Homo sapiens: one gene and its partners. The protein of the gene in region 3 purifies or fractionates together with the protein of the main gene of each other region. This does not show direct contact. Each region holds a gene or a part of one and is shown on either strand. Other genes may lie near its edges. The genes, in order: CASC3, MOV10 and RTP3.

What was found.
Region 1: the proteins of RTP3 (region 3) and CASC3 purify together in Homo sapiens (affinity purification with mass spectrometry; one large-scale study listed by BioGRID and IntAct). This does not show direct contact.
Region 2: the proteins of RTP3 (region 3) and MOV10 purify together in Homo sapiens (affinity purification with mass spectrometry; one large-scale study listed by BioGRID and IntAct). This does not show direct contact.

What each region holds. Positions count from the first base shown.
Region 1 is NC_000017.11:40,146,837-40,150,557, forward strand, and holds part of CASC3 (protein CASC3), read left to right. Parts: intron 1-3,721. UniProt on the Homo sapiens protein: Required for pre-mRNA splicing as component of the spliceosome. Core component of the splicing-dependent multiprotein exon junction complex (EJC) deposited at splice junctions on mRNAs.
Region 2 is NC_000001.11:112,681,159-112,684,658, forward strand, and holds part of MOV10 (helicase MOV-10), read left to right. Parts: intron 1-3,500.
Region 3 is NC_000003.12:46,496,464-46,500,961, forward strand, and holds RTP3 (receptor-transporting protein 3), read left to right. Parts: upstream 1-1,512; 5' UTR 1,513-1,599; coding exon 1,600-1,754; intron 1,755-3,892; coding exon 3,893-4,436; 3' UTR 4,437-4,487; downstream 4,488-4,498.

The DNA of each region.
Region 1 (3,721 bases), on a different chromosome or scaffold from region 3:
CCTCCCAAAGTGCTGGGATTACATGTGTGGTGAGCCACTGCACCCAGCTGAGAAGTACAGTTTCTACTGAATGTTTATGGCTTTCATACCACCATAAAGTCAAAATTATAAGTTGAACCATCATACATCAGGGACCGTCTGTAGTCACTAGAGAATGGAAACGTTGGAGAAACTGACAGGCAATATGGAGTGTTCATTGAGTTTTGGGGATTGTGAATTTATAGCAGCTTACCATTCTATATGTAAGGGAGTTTGGATGTTTTCCTAATGGCTAGGAAAGAAGTACCACTGAAGGCTTAAATGTGGGGGATGAATTGTGGGTGAGGCACAAAGGAAGACTAGAGGCAGAAGAGCTGTTTAGAGGTTGTTAGGATAGTCCAAGGAGCATGACGATGGTGCCCCTAAAGAAGGTTCATACTTGTTGGAATGGCAAGATGTGGGACAGATTAGAGAGAGATTCTAGTGTACTAACAACCCCTTCATTGATTGAATGTGGAACCTAAATTAAGGAGTCAAAGGAGGCCAGGTACCTTGGCTCATGCCTGTAATCACAGCATTTTGGGAGGCTGAGGCAGGTGGATTGCTTGAGCCCAGGAGCCTGAGACCCACCTGGGCAACATGGAAAAATCCTGTCTCTACAAAAGAAAAGTAGAAAAAAAAATTATCCGGTCTTGGTGGCGCAGGCCTGTGGTCCCAGCTACTGAGGAGGTTCAGGCAGGAGGATCATCTAAGCCCAGGGAGGTCAAAGCAGTAGAGCTGTGATCACTCCACAGCACTCCAGCCTGGACAACAAAGTGAGACCCTGACTCAGAAAAAGAAAAAGGAGTCAAAGGAATGTGCAGGTTGATGAATGGTGTTGAATGGTGTTAACTGTTAAGGAAGGGACCCCAGGAGAAGAGTTCTGGAAGGACAGTTGTGGGTTAGGTTTTGGATGTTTTGAGATCGAGAAGGTGTGGGACTTTTAGGTGGTGATACCTGGTAAATAGTTTTTGATTCCTAATTGCTCATACCTTTCTGAGTTCTCATTTCATTTTTGAGTTTTTCCAATTCTGATTGATGTTCTTTCATGCCTTATATAATTTTCTTAATGTCTTTTTAGCTTATTTTGAAATAGAAGTTGCAATTTTGATATGATATGCGGATGTCTTTCTGGCATGCTTTCATTGTCTGTAGGAATGCTATTATTTTTTCTTATTATAACTTTATGGGATTTAACTTCTGTATTTTCTGTTCATTTTTATGTAAAATTAGTTTTCCTGGTCTTTTCGAAGGAAGCATGATTTAGAATAGCTTTTTCTAACTTCACAGAGCTGCTTCTGTTGTTTTTCTGTGGTGGTGAGAAATATGGTGGCTTGCTTTCTGAGATTTGTTGCTTTTGTTCCCTTTCCCAGCTTGTTCTGGACCATCCCTGTCCTACTGAATTTGGTCCTGCTCTCAACAGTTTCTCTTCTAGGAACTCCCTTCTAGGGACAGTGTAGGGCCCTGTCCCCAGAAGGAAGCCCTGGCAGCCAGGTCAGCTTCATCCCTTCAGACCTTTTTTTTTTTTAAGACAGAGTCTCACTCTGTCGCCCAGACTGGAGTGCAGTGGCGCAATCTCAGCTAACTGCAATCTCCGTCTCCTGGGTTCAAGCGATTCTCCTGCCTTAGCCTCCTGAGTAGCTGGGACCTCGTGTGTCACCGTGCCCAGCTAATTTTTGTATTTTTAGTAGAGATGAGGTTTCACCATGTTTTCCAGGCTGGTCTCGAACTCCTGACTCAGATGATCCACCCACCTTGGCCTCCCAAAGTGATGGGATTACAGGCATGAGCCACCGTGTGTGGCCCCCTTGCTAGTTGTAAGTGCTGTTCTCAGTTTTGACTGTTGTGCTTTCCCTTGACTGCCTGTTGATTATTTCAGTGTTCTCCTGTTCTCAGGTCCATTTGCTTTCTCTCTGCTTTCTCCTGCGTGGACACCAGTACTATACAGGTCCTACAGCTGTTGGTGCTTTGTTATGCACTTACATTTTGGGTCTTGGGGGATACCTGGTAACTTAACTTTGTTGCAGTGTTGTCTGAAGGTTTTGGTTTCTTTTTTATTTTTTGAGACAGAGTCTTGCTGTCGCCCAGGCTGGAGTGCAGTGGCTTTGCCTTCCAGATTCAAGCTATTCTTGTGCCTCAGCCTCCTGCGTAGCTGGGATTACAGGTGCGTGCCACCATGCCTGGCTAATTTTTGCATTTTTAGTAGAGACGCGGTTTTACCATGTTGGCCAGGCTGGTCTCGAACTCCTGGTCTCAGGTGATCCACCCACCTCGGCTTCCCAAAGTGTTGGGATTATGGACGTGAGCCACTGTGTCTGGCCAGGGTTTTGGTTTGGGTCTCGGTTTTGCTGTCCAGAGCTCTCATTCCATGTGGAGATTTGAAGAGAGATAAAACTGTGCCACTGCCATTTTCTGAGAGTCTTCCAAGAATTCTTTTTTTTTTTTTTTTGGCAAATGGGTCTCCTTATTTTGCCCAAGCTGAGCTTGAACTTGAACTTACAATCCTCATCAGCCTCTTGAATAGCTGAGACAATAGGTTCATGCCACTGTGCCTGGCCAAAAAAACTTGTTAAAGAAATTTGACTGAGGGAAGGCTGAAGAGATGGTAGTTGGAGAGGTAGCTTTGAGATCAAGAGGTGATTTGGATGTTTTTTAAAAAGTTAGGAGAGTATCAAATAAGGTCAAAGATTGAAAAAAAGAAAAGAAAGGGGGAAAAAAGAGAGGGAATAGATAATGATATTGAGTACTGGTATTTTTGACTGAGTATATGAGAAAAAGTAGGAACCAGACAAGATTAACATCTTCCATTGTAATTACAGAGAAGTGGGAAGGAAAGGTATGTGCAAAGGAAGATTAGAAAGGAGGGAAAAGCTGGGTGCGGTGGCTCACGCCTGTAATCCCGGCACTTTGGGAGGCCGAGGCGGGCAGATCACGAGGTCAGGAGATCGAGACCATCCTGGCTAACATGGTGAAACCCCGTCTCTACTAAAAATACAAAAAATTAGCCGGGCATGGTGGCGGGCACTTGAGCCTGGGCGACAGAGCGAGACTCCGTCTCAAAAAAAAGGGAAAAAAAAGAGGGAATAGATAATAATATTAAGTACTGGTATTCTTGACTAAGTACATGAGAAGATGTAGGAACCAGATGAGAAGTATCTTCCATTGTAATTACAAAGAAGTGGGAAGGAAAGGAAGTTAGCGTTCCTTTCTGTGTTTTGTTTTTGTGAAATAGAAGGATAGAGCAGGACAGGCACGGTGGCTCACACCTGTAATCCAAGCACTTTGGGAGGCCAAGGCAGGAGGATTGCTTGAGCCCAGGAATTTGAGACCAATCTGGGCAACAAAGTGAGACCCTCTCTCTACAAAAAATCAACCTGGCGCAGTGATGTGTGCTTATGTCCCAGCTACTTGGGAGCTTGGAGTGGGAGGATCCCTTGAGCCCAGGAGGTCGAGGCCACAGCAAGCTATGATTGCACCACTGCACTCCACCCTGGGTAACAGTGTGAGACTCTCGAAAAAAACAAAAGAATGACATCTGCTTCAAAAAGTAAGAGTGTGTGCGTGTGTGTGTGTGTGTGTGTGTGTGTGTGTAACCCCCTTTGGCAATGGAGTAGTCTGTTGTAGGCCTGGAGAAAGCAGACATTTGAATTGATCCAGTTCCAGGCATATGGGAGTGGCAAGAGAAATGGGATGTTACTAGTAG
Region 2 (3,500 bases), on a different chromosome or scaffold from region 3:
CAATCAGGGTGGTTTTTTTAGTCATTGTTTTATTTAAAAAGAATCATGTTTGGCCGGGCTCAGTGGCTCAAACCTGTAATCCCAGCACTTTGGGAGGCCAAGGCGGGTGGATCACCTGAGGTCAGGAGTTTGAGACCAGTCTGGCCAACATGGCGAAACCCCGTCTCTACTAAAAAATACAAAAAATTAGCTGGGCGTGGTGGCGGGCGCCTGTAATCCCAGCTACTCGGGAGGCTGAGGCAGGAGAATCACTTGAACCCGGGAGGCGGAAGTTGCAGTGAGCCAAGATGGCGCCATTGCACACCAGCCCGGGCGACAGACCAAGACTCTGTCAAAAGAATCATGTTATTCACATCATCCACGTCCTACTCTCTCAACTGTGTGATGGGAATCACTCGTAGGCATATGGCATAGACCTCTAATGCATTGTTGGGATTTTTTCCCCAATATCATACTATAATAAATTTTAAACATAAAGAAAAGTTGAAATGAATCTACAGTGAACATCCACATACCCTTACCTAGATTTCTTTTAACGTTTTACACATATCTGCCCATAGATCCATCCCGCTATTCATTTAGCAAGTCATCTTAATTTTCCTGATGCATTTCAAAATAAGTTACAGACATCAGTACACTTCACTCCAACAAATTATTATTAATTATTTAGCGTGATTATTATCAGCTAGAGTTCAAAATTTATGTTATGTTTGCCTAGAAATAAAAAAAAATTGTTTATGGGTTTTTTTTTTTTTTTAGACAGTTTTGCTCTTGTTACCCAGGCTGGAGTGCAATGGCGCAGTCTTGGCTCACTGCAACCTCCGCCTCTGGGATTCAAGCAATTCTCCTGCCTCAGCCTCCCAAGTAGCTGGGACTACAGGCATGCGCCACCATGCCCAGCTAATTTTTTGTATTTAGTAGAGACGGGGTTTCACCATGTTGGCCAGGCTGGTCTTGAACTCCTGACCTCAGGTGATCCACCCGCCTTGGCCTCCCAAAGTGCTGGGATTACAGGCGTGAGCCATCGCGCCCGGCCATGGGTTTTTTGTTGTTGTTGTTTGGGTTTTGGTTTTTTGTTTTTTTAAGTCAAGGTCTTGCTCCGTTGTCAAGACTGGAGTACAGTGGCATGAACATAGCTCACTGCAGCCTCAACCTCCCAGACTCAGGCTATCCTCCCACCTCAGCCTCCTGAGTAGCTGGGACCATAGGCGTGTGCCACTATGCCCAGCTAATTTTTCATTTTTTGTGGAGATGGGGTCTGTCTATATTGTGCAGGGTGGTCTTGAACTTTTGGGATTACAGGTATGAACCACTGTGCCGGGCCTTTAAGCAAAATTTGCAAACAGCAAAATGTTCAAATTGTAAGTGTACTGTTCTGTGAGGTTTAACAAATGCATATATCTGTGTGCAAACGCCTGTTGAGGTACAGAACATCACATCACTCCAGAAAGCTCCCTCGTGCCCTTTCCTAGTCAGTCCTCACTCTTACTCACCCAGAAGCAACCACTGCTCTGATTTTTTCATGACAGTACCTGTTCTAGAAATTCATTTAATGGAATCATATAGTATGTACTGTTGTGTAAGGCAACTTTCACTTAGCGTAATGTTTTTGAGATTCATCCACAATGTATCAGTAGTTTCTTTTTTATCACTTAGTAGTATTCCATTGTATGAATCCAAATCACAGTTTGTATATTTATTCCCCTGTTTATGGACAGTGTTTTTAGTTTGGGGCTCTTCTGAATGAAGCTCCTAGGAACATCTTTTTTTTTTTTTTTTGAGACGGAGTCTTGCTCTGTTGCCCAGGCTAGAGTGCAATGGCATGATCTTGGCTCACTGCAACCTGCACCTCCCAGGTTCAAGCAATTCTCCCGCCTCAGCCTCCTGAGTAGCAGGGATTACAGGTGCCTGCCACAACGCCTGGCTAATTTTTTTTTTTTTTGTAGAGACGGGGTTTCACTGTGTTTGCCACGCTGGTCTCGAACTCCTGACCTCAAGTGTTCCATCCGCCTTGGCCTCCCAAAGTGCTGGGATTACAGGCGTGAGCCACCGTGCCCAGCCAGGAACATCTTATACAAGTCATTTTGTGGACTTACATTTTAATTTCTTTTGGGATGTAACTAGGAGTGGAATTTTTGAGTCATAGGATAGGCATATGTTTAGTTTTACAAGGAACTATTAGACCTTTTCCCAAAGTGCTTAAACCATTTTACAGACCAACAAACAATGCATGAGAGTTTGGGTTGTTGTATTTTTTATTTTTTTGAGACAAAATCTCATTCTGTCACCCAGGATGGAGTGCAGTGGCACAATTGTGGCAGACTGCAGCCTCAAGGGCCCAGCTAATTTCTTAATTTTTTTGTAGAAACAGGGTCTTGCTATGTTTCCCAGGATGGTCTTGAACTTCTCAGTTGAAGTGATCCTCCTACCTCAGCCTTCCAAAGTGCTAGGATTACAGGCATGATCCGCTGTGCCTGGCCTGGTTGTTCCGTATCCTTACCAGTGTTTCGTATTGTGAGCCTTTTAAATGTTAGCCATTTGAGTGGGTGTGGTACATCTTTTCAATGGCTGCATAATATCCCACGGTATGAGTGCTTACAATGTGTTCACCTTTCACTCTGTTGATGGGCATTTGTTTAATTTTCAATTCTTGACCACTGTGAGTGACTCTGCAGTAAGTATCCTTGCACATATGTCTTTATACATTGGTACTTTTCTTCCCATGGGACACATTCCAGGAACAGTGTTACTGGGTTTTGTGGGGTTTTGTTTTATCTTTTAAATTTAAATTTTATTTTATTTTATTTTTTGAGTCAGGGTCTTGCTCTGTTGCCCAGACTGGAGTGCAGATCTGCAATCATAGCTCTCTGTAACCTCAAAGTCCTGGGCTCAAGCAATCCTCACACCTCAGCCTCCTGAGTAGCTGGGACTACAGGGGTGTGCCACCACACCTGACTAATTTTTTTTTTTAATTCTTTGTAGAGACAGGGACCTGCTATGTTTCTTAGGCTGATATCAAACTCCTGGGCTCAAGTGATCCTCCCACCTCAGCCTCCCAAAGTGCTAGGATTAGAGGCGTGAGCCACCATGCCCAGTCCCTGGGATTTTTTTTTTTTTTTTTTTTTTGTGACAGAGTTTGGTTCTTGTTGCCCAGGCTGGAGTGCAATGGCGCGAACTCAGCTCACTGCAACCTCCGCCTCCTGGGTTCAAGCGATTCTCCTGCCTCAGCCTCCTGAGTAGCTGGGATTAGAGGTGCCTGCCACCATGCCCAGCTAATTTTTTCTATTTTTAGTAGAAATGGGTTTCTCCATGCAGGTCAGGCTGGTCTCAAACTCCCGACCTCAGGTGATCCGCCCGCCTCAGCCTCCCAAAGTGCTGGGATTACAGGCGTGAGCCACCGTGCCCGGACAGTCCCTGGGTTTTAAAGGATACCTGTATTTTAAATATTTGTAGATGTTGCCAGATTGTTTTCCCAAAAGATGGCAATACTTGACTCTTCT
Region 3 (4,498 bases):
ATGGTTTGTAGGGCATAACTTTTACCATGCATAGCCTTAGGTCTTGTTTATAAATTGGTTATCTGATTGCAACAAGCAGTCTATTTTGTCAGTCTTATGATCTCTGTTTTAACCTTGATGCTGGTGAGTTGTCCCTAAAGTCAAAGGGAGGGAGTATGATAAGGTGTTTCCAACCTCCCCTCCTGTCATAGCTGGGAATTTAGTTTTTCAGGTTTCTCAGGGGTCCCCTTGGCCAAAAGCTAGTCCATTCAGTTGGTTTGGGGGCTTAGGAACTTATTTTTAGTTAGCAGTTTAAAATCAATAAAGTGTAACAACTATTTACATAGCATTTACATTGTATTAGGTATTATAAGTAATCTAGAGATCAATTAAAGTATACAGAAGGATGTGCATAGATTATATGCAAATACTATGTCATTTTGTATAAGGGACCTGAGCATCTGAGGATTTTGCTATCTGCAGGGGGCGCTGGAACCAATCCACCTGGAACTGAGGGACAGCTCTAATGCTGAGAAACAAAACTGGCTTGGAAAGAGGGGAGACCCAGGACTTGAGCCTGCCGAGGAGCTAAACCCAAGGGCAAGAGCTGCAGGCAGCTGGGCTGGAGAGGAGGAAGGAGGTGGCTTTGTTTCCAACTGCCCTGGAAGACCTCCTCATCCCCCTGCATCCCCAGCCTCCTTTCCTTTTTCCTTCCTGCTCTGCTCCCTTCCTTCCTCTCCTCCTCTTGGGAGGTGGCCAGGGACATAGGTCAGTGCCTGGCCCCGAGGAAGACACATGCAGTTTGTGGACGGGTCTTGGGATGCGGACACCCAGAGTCTTGTGCACCTTCCTGGAGTGTTGCCCACTCCAGTACCCACTCCCTAATCTCCCCTCTTCCTCCTCAATCCTCTCTTGCAGGAAGCAGAGGATGGAGAACCCCCTCAGGAAGGAGGGCAGTGACTCTGGGTTTGCCTAGGGCTAATGGCCTCTCACCGACCTGTGCCCTTGTACCTGTCGCCTGGGCAAACAGTGATTGCATCAGCTTTGGTTTCTCATGGGTGGGCAGCCTTGGCTGTCTGCCGGAACGTAAAGAGCATGGAGCAAGGACATGGGAATCCGAATCCCGCTGAGGTCCCAGGACCACTTCATCCTTCTTCCCTGTGCCTCTCCTCCCCAGCATGAGCACAGCAGCCTGATGGAGAAGGATTTTCCAATGTTAGAACTGGAAAGAACACCTGTAGCCTGTCTCCACCGTTTACAGTGGTGCTGGAAGTGAAAAGATGTGTTCCAGGTCACAGGCAGGTAGACAGCGGAGCCAGACTGAAATTCACTCCTCCTGATTTGGAGTTTAGAGCTCTTCTTTGGCAACATTTTGATGAATAAAATCACAAGTTCTGTGTCTTTTGAAATTCCTTGTGGAGCCTAGTGCCATCCTCTGAACTTGGAGCCAACTGACCTTTGTCCTTGGGGCAGAGACATGGTTCATGGGCCCAATCCAGGTCCTCAAAGGGAGGGCAGGTCTGAGTCCTTGCCCTCTGAAGTCAGAAACCTCATCTCCCACTACAGACCTGCCAGGGCCCAGGAGAGCTCGACCCACCCAGGCACACCATAGCCCCAGAGATGGCTGGGGACACAGAAGTGTGGAAGCAAATGTTTCAGGAGTTAATGCGGGAGGTGAAGCCATGGCACAGGTGGACCCTGAGACCAGACAAGGGCCTTCTTCCCAACGTCCTGAAGCCAGGCTGGATGCAATACCAGCAGTGGACCTTCGCCAGGTGAGGGGGAATGTGATGGTACACGTTCCAGAAAATTCTTGCACATTTCTTACTAGGTATACCTGTTACTTTTCTTGTTCTATTCTGTGCTTTCAAATTGAAGACTATGGGTAATAAGATGCCCATCATCCAAGAAGTTGTAACTTCATTAAAGATCGTTTTTTCACTATTACAATGAACCCCAAAGCAAGAGCAGGCCTGAGCACCCTTGTGAGCTAATGCCTGGATACAGAGAAATCAGTCTGTGGGGGTGGGGAGAGGGAGCAGCCAGGAAAGGGGAGGGGAGGAAGGGCAGCTGTTGCACCCACGGGCGGTGCATGTGCCCCATGCCTAGGGAGACTGCTGGACCCACCTTGGAGCCCCTAGGAGGAGAGACTCACGGCACTGAGCAGACACCCTCGGGGGAGGCCGGAGGAGCAGGGGGCCTGGGCAACAGGCAGCAATCCTGCCCCTCTCTACTCTGAGCTGATAGAATCTTTTTAAAATAGGAGTCTTAGAAATCATCCTAAGCCTCATCCTCTCTTTCCCAGGTGGAAATGGGGAGCCCCAAGGCTTGGGGCTGATTGCCCACAGTGCACAGAGGGTGGAGGCCGGGTCCCACCCGCTGTCCCCTCCCAGGGAGAGTCTACATAGAGGGGGCAGAGCTCTCCCACTGGCCTATGGCTATCCCAGGCCAGGAGCTGCCATAGGGAGCATTGCACCAAAGTCTCAGTCCATTTATCCATGGGAAGTTTGAACTCTGAACAAGCACAGGAACAGAGCACTGAGACCCAGGGGATGGCAGTGGACTTCTGCTCAGAACAGGGCCCAGGCCCCTCTGCACTGCTGACTCTGGGTGACTCCCAGCAAGGTCCTCTCACAGTGATCACAGCTTCTTGGCCTCTCCCTCTCATTTCAACCTTGCATTCACCCTGTGGGTTGCGGCTAGAGTCAAGATACAGGAGCACACCCTGGACTAACTCCCTCTTCCCAGCCCCCTCCAATTCACCACCTGCAGCCTAATTTCTCTGTATCCAGGCATCGGGGGCTCAGCCACAGTGACAAATAAACCTGGAAATATCACTGATTTAACCTTACACGTGGCTCCCAAGGTCACCGAAGCAGAGGAGGAGAGAGCTGGAATGTCTTACCAAGGCTTCTGTGACCATATCTGGAAGGAACATATATCACTGCTGGCCTCATCTCATTGCCCAACTGGTCCCATGGCCCCAGCCTCACGGCAAAGGGGCTGGGAAGTGGGAGGGAGTGCATGGATAATTTGGTGAGCATTAAATGTCTCCGCCACAGTGCAGCTCTCTGCCTCTCCCATAATTCCTTTCCCAGGTGCAGCCATGTGCTTCCTGCCTTCTTCTCTCTCTACCTCCTGACATGTATTTGTCCAGATACCTTAGCTCAAAAACTGCCCTCCTCCCTGCTGAGACAAGGTGTATTATCTTGTATCCTGTCTGAAGCCAGTGGCATTCAGAATATGAAGTTTTCCAGGCTACCTTGAGCAAGGGAACTGGGTTGGAGGGGAAACAAATGAAGAGAGAGCTGGACACTGTGATCTCCCTGCAATACCGCAGACCAGGGACCCTCGGCAGCCAAGAGAAAGGCAAAGGCTTTCCTCTAGGAGAACCCTGGACACTTCAGGCTCCCACCGCCAACCCATGAGTCTATAACTTAATCAACACCCACCTATAGGCATTTGTGGATTTCAGGGTCCTGAACTGAACTGGCTGCTGTTGCAGTTGTGGCCTCTGACCCATTTGAATCTACATTTGAAGAAGCTTTGCTTTGGAATAGGGAGACCACAGTCCCAGTCATGCCTTTTTACACCCACTGGGTCTCTGGACATGAGGAGTTTCCAGAGTGTGCCTCATCTCTAAAATGGACGTGTTGGACTTAGAAGATGCCCAAGGTCCCTCCCAGATCTAACAGCTTGCAATTCACTGTTTTCATAGCAGACACTGTGCAGCATGCAGTGTGTCAGTGGCACAATGGAGATGGGAAAGAGGTCTTAGCAATTTCTTCCACCACTGAGCCACAGCCCCAGTCAAGTCATGTCTCTGTGCAGTCGGTAGCTCCTTTCTCTCTCTGGCAGTTCCCCGTGATTTGGTCACATGGAGCCAGGCTGAGACTCTCTTCTGTCTCCACAGGTTCCAGTGCTCCTCCTGCTCTCGTAACTGGGCCTCTGCCCAAGTTCTGGTCCTTTTCCACATGAACTGGAGTGAGGAGAAGTCCAGGGGCCAGGTGAAGATGAGGGTGTTTACCCAGAGATGTAAGAAGTGCCCCCAACCTCTGTTTGAGGACCCTGAGTTCACACAAGAGAACATCTCAAGGATCCTGAAAAACCTGGTGTTCCGAATTCTGAAGAAATGCTATAGAGGAAGATTTCAGTTGATAGAGGAGGTTCCTATGATCAAGGACATCTCTCTTGAAGGGCCACACAATAGTGACAACTGTGAGGCATGTCTGCAGGGCTTCTGTGCTGGGCCCATACAGGTTACAAGCCTCCCCCCATCTCAGACCCCAAGAGTACACTCCATTTACAAGGTGGAGGAGGTAGTTAAGCCCTGGGCCTCAGGAGAGAATGTCTATTCCTACGCATGCCAAAACCACATCTGTAGGAACTTAAGCATTTTCTGCTGTTGTGTCATTCTCATTGTTATCGTGGTGATTGTTGTAAAAACTGCTATATGAGCCTTGGAAACATGAAGCTAAGTCAGAAAAAAAATCAGATACAAAAAGTCATATGTTGTATG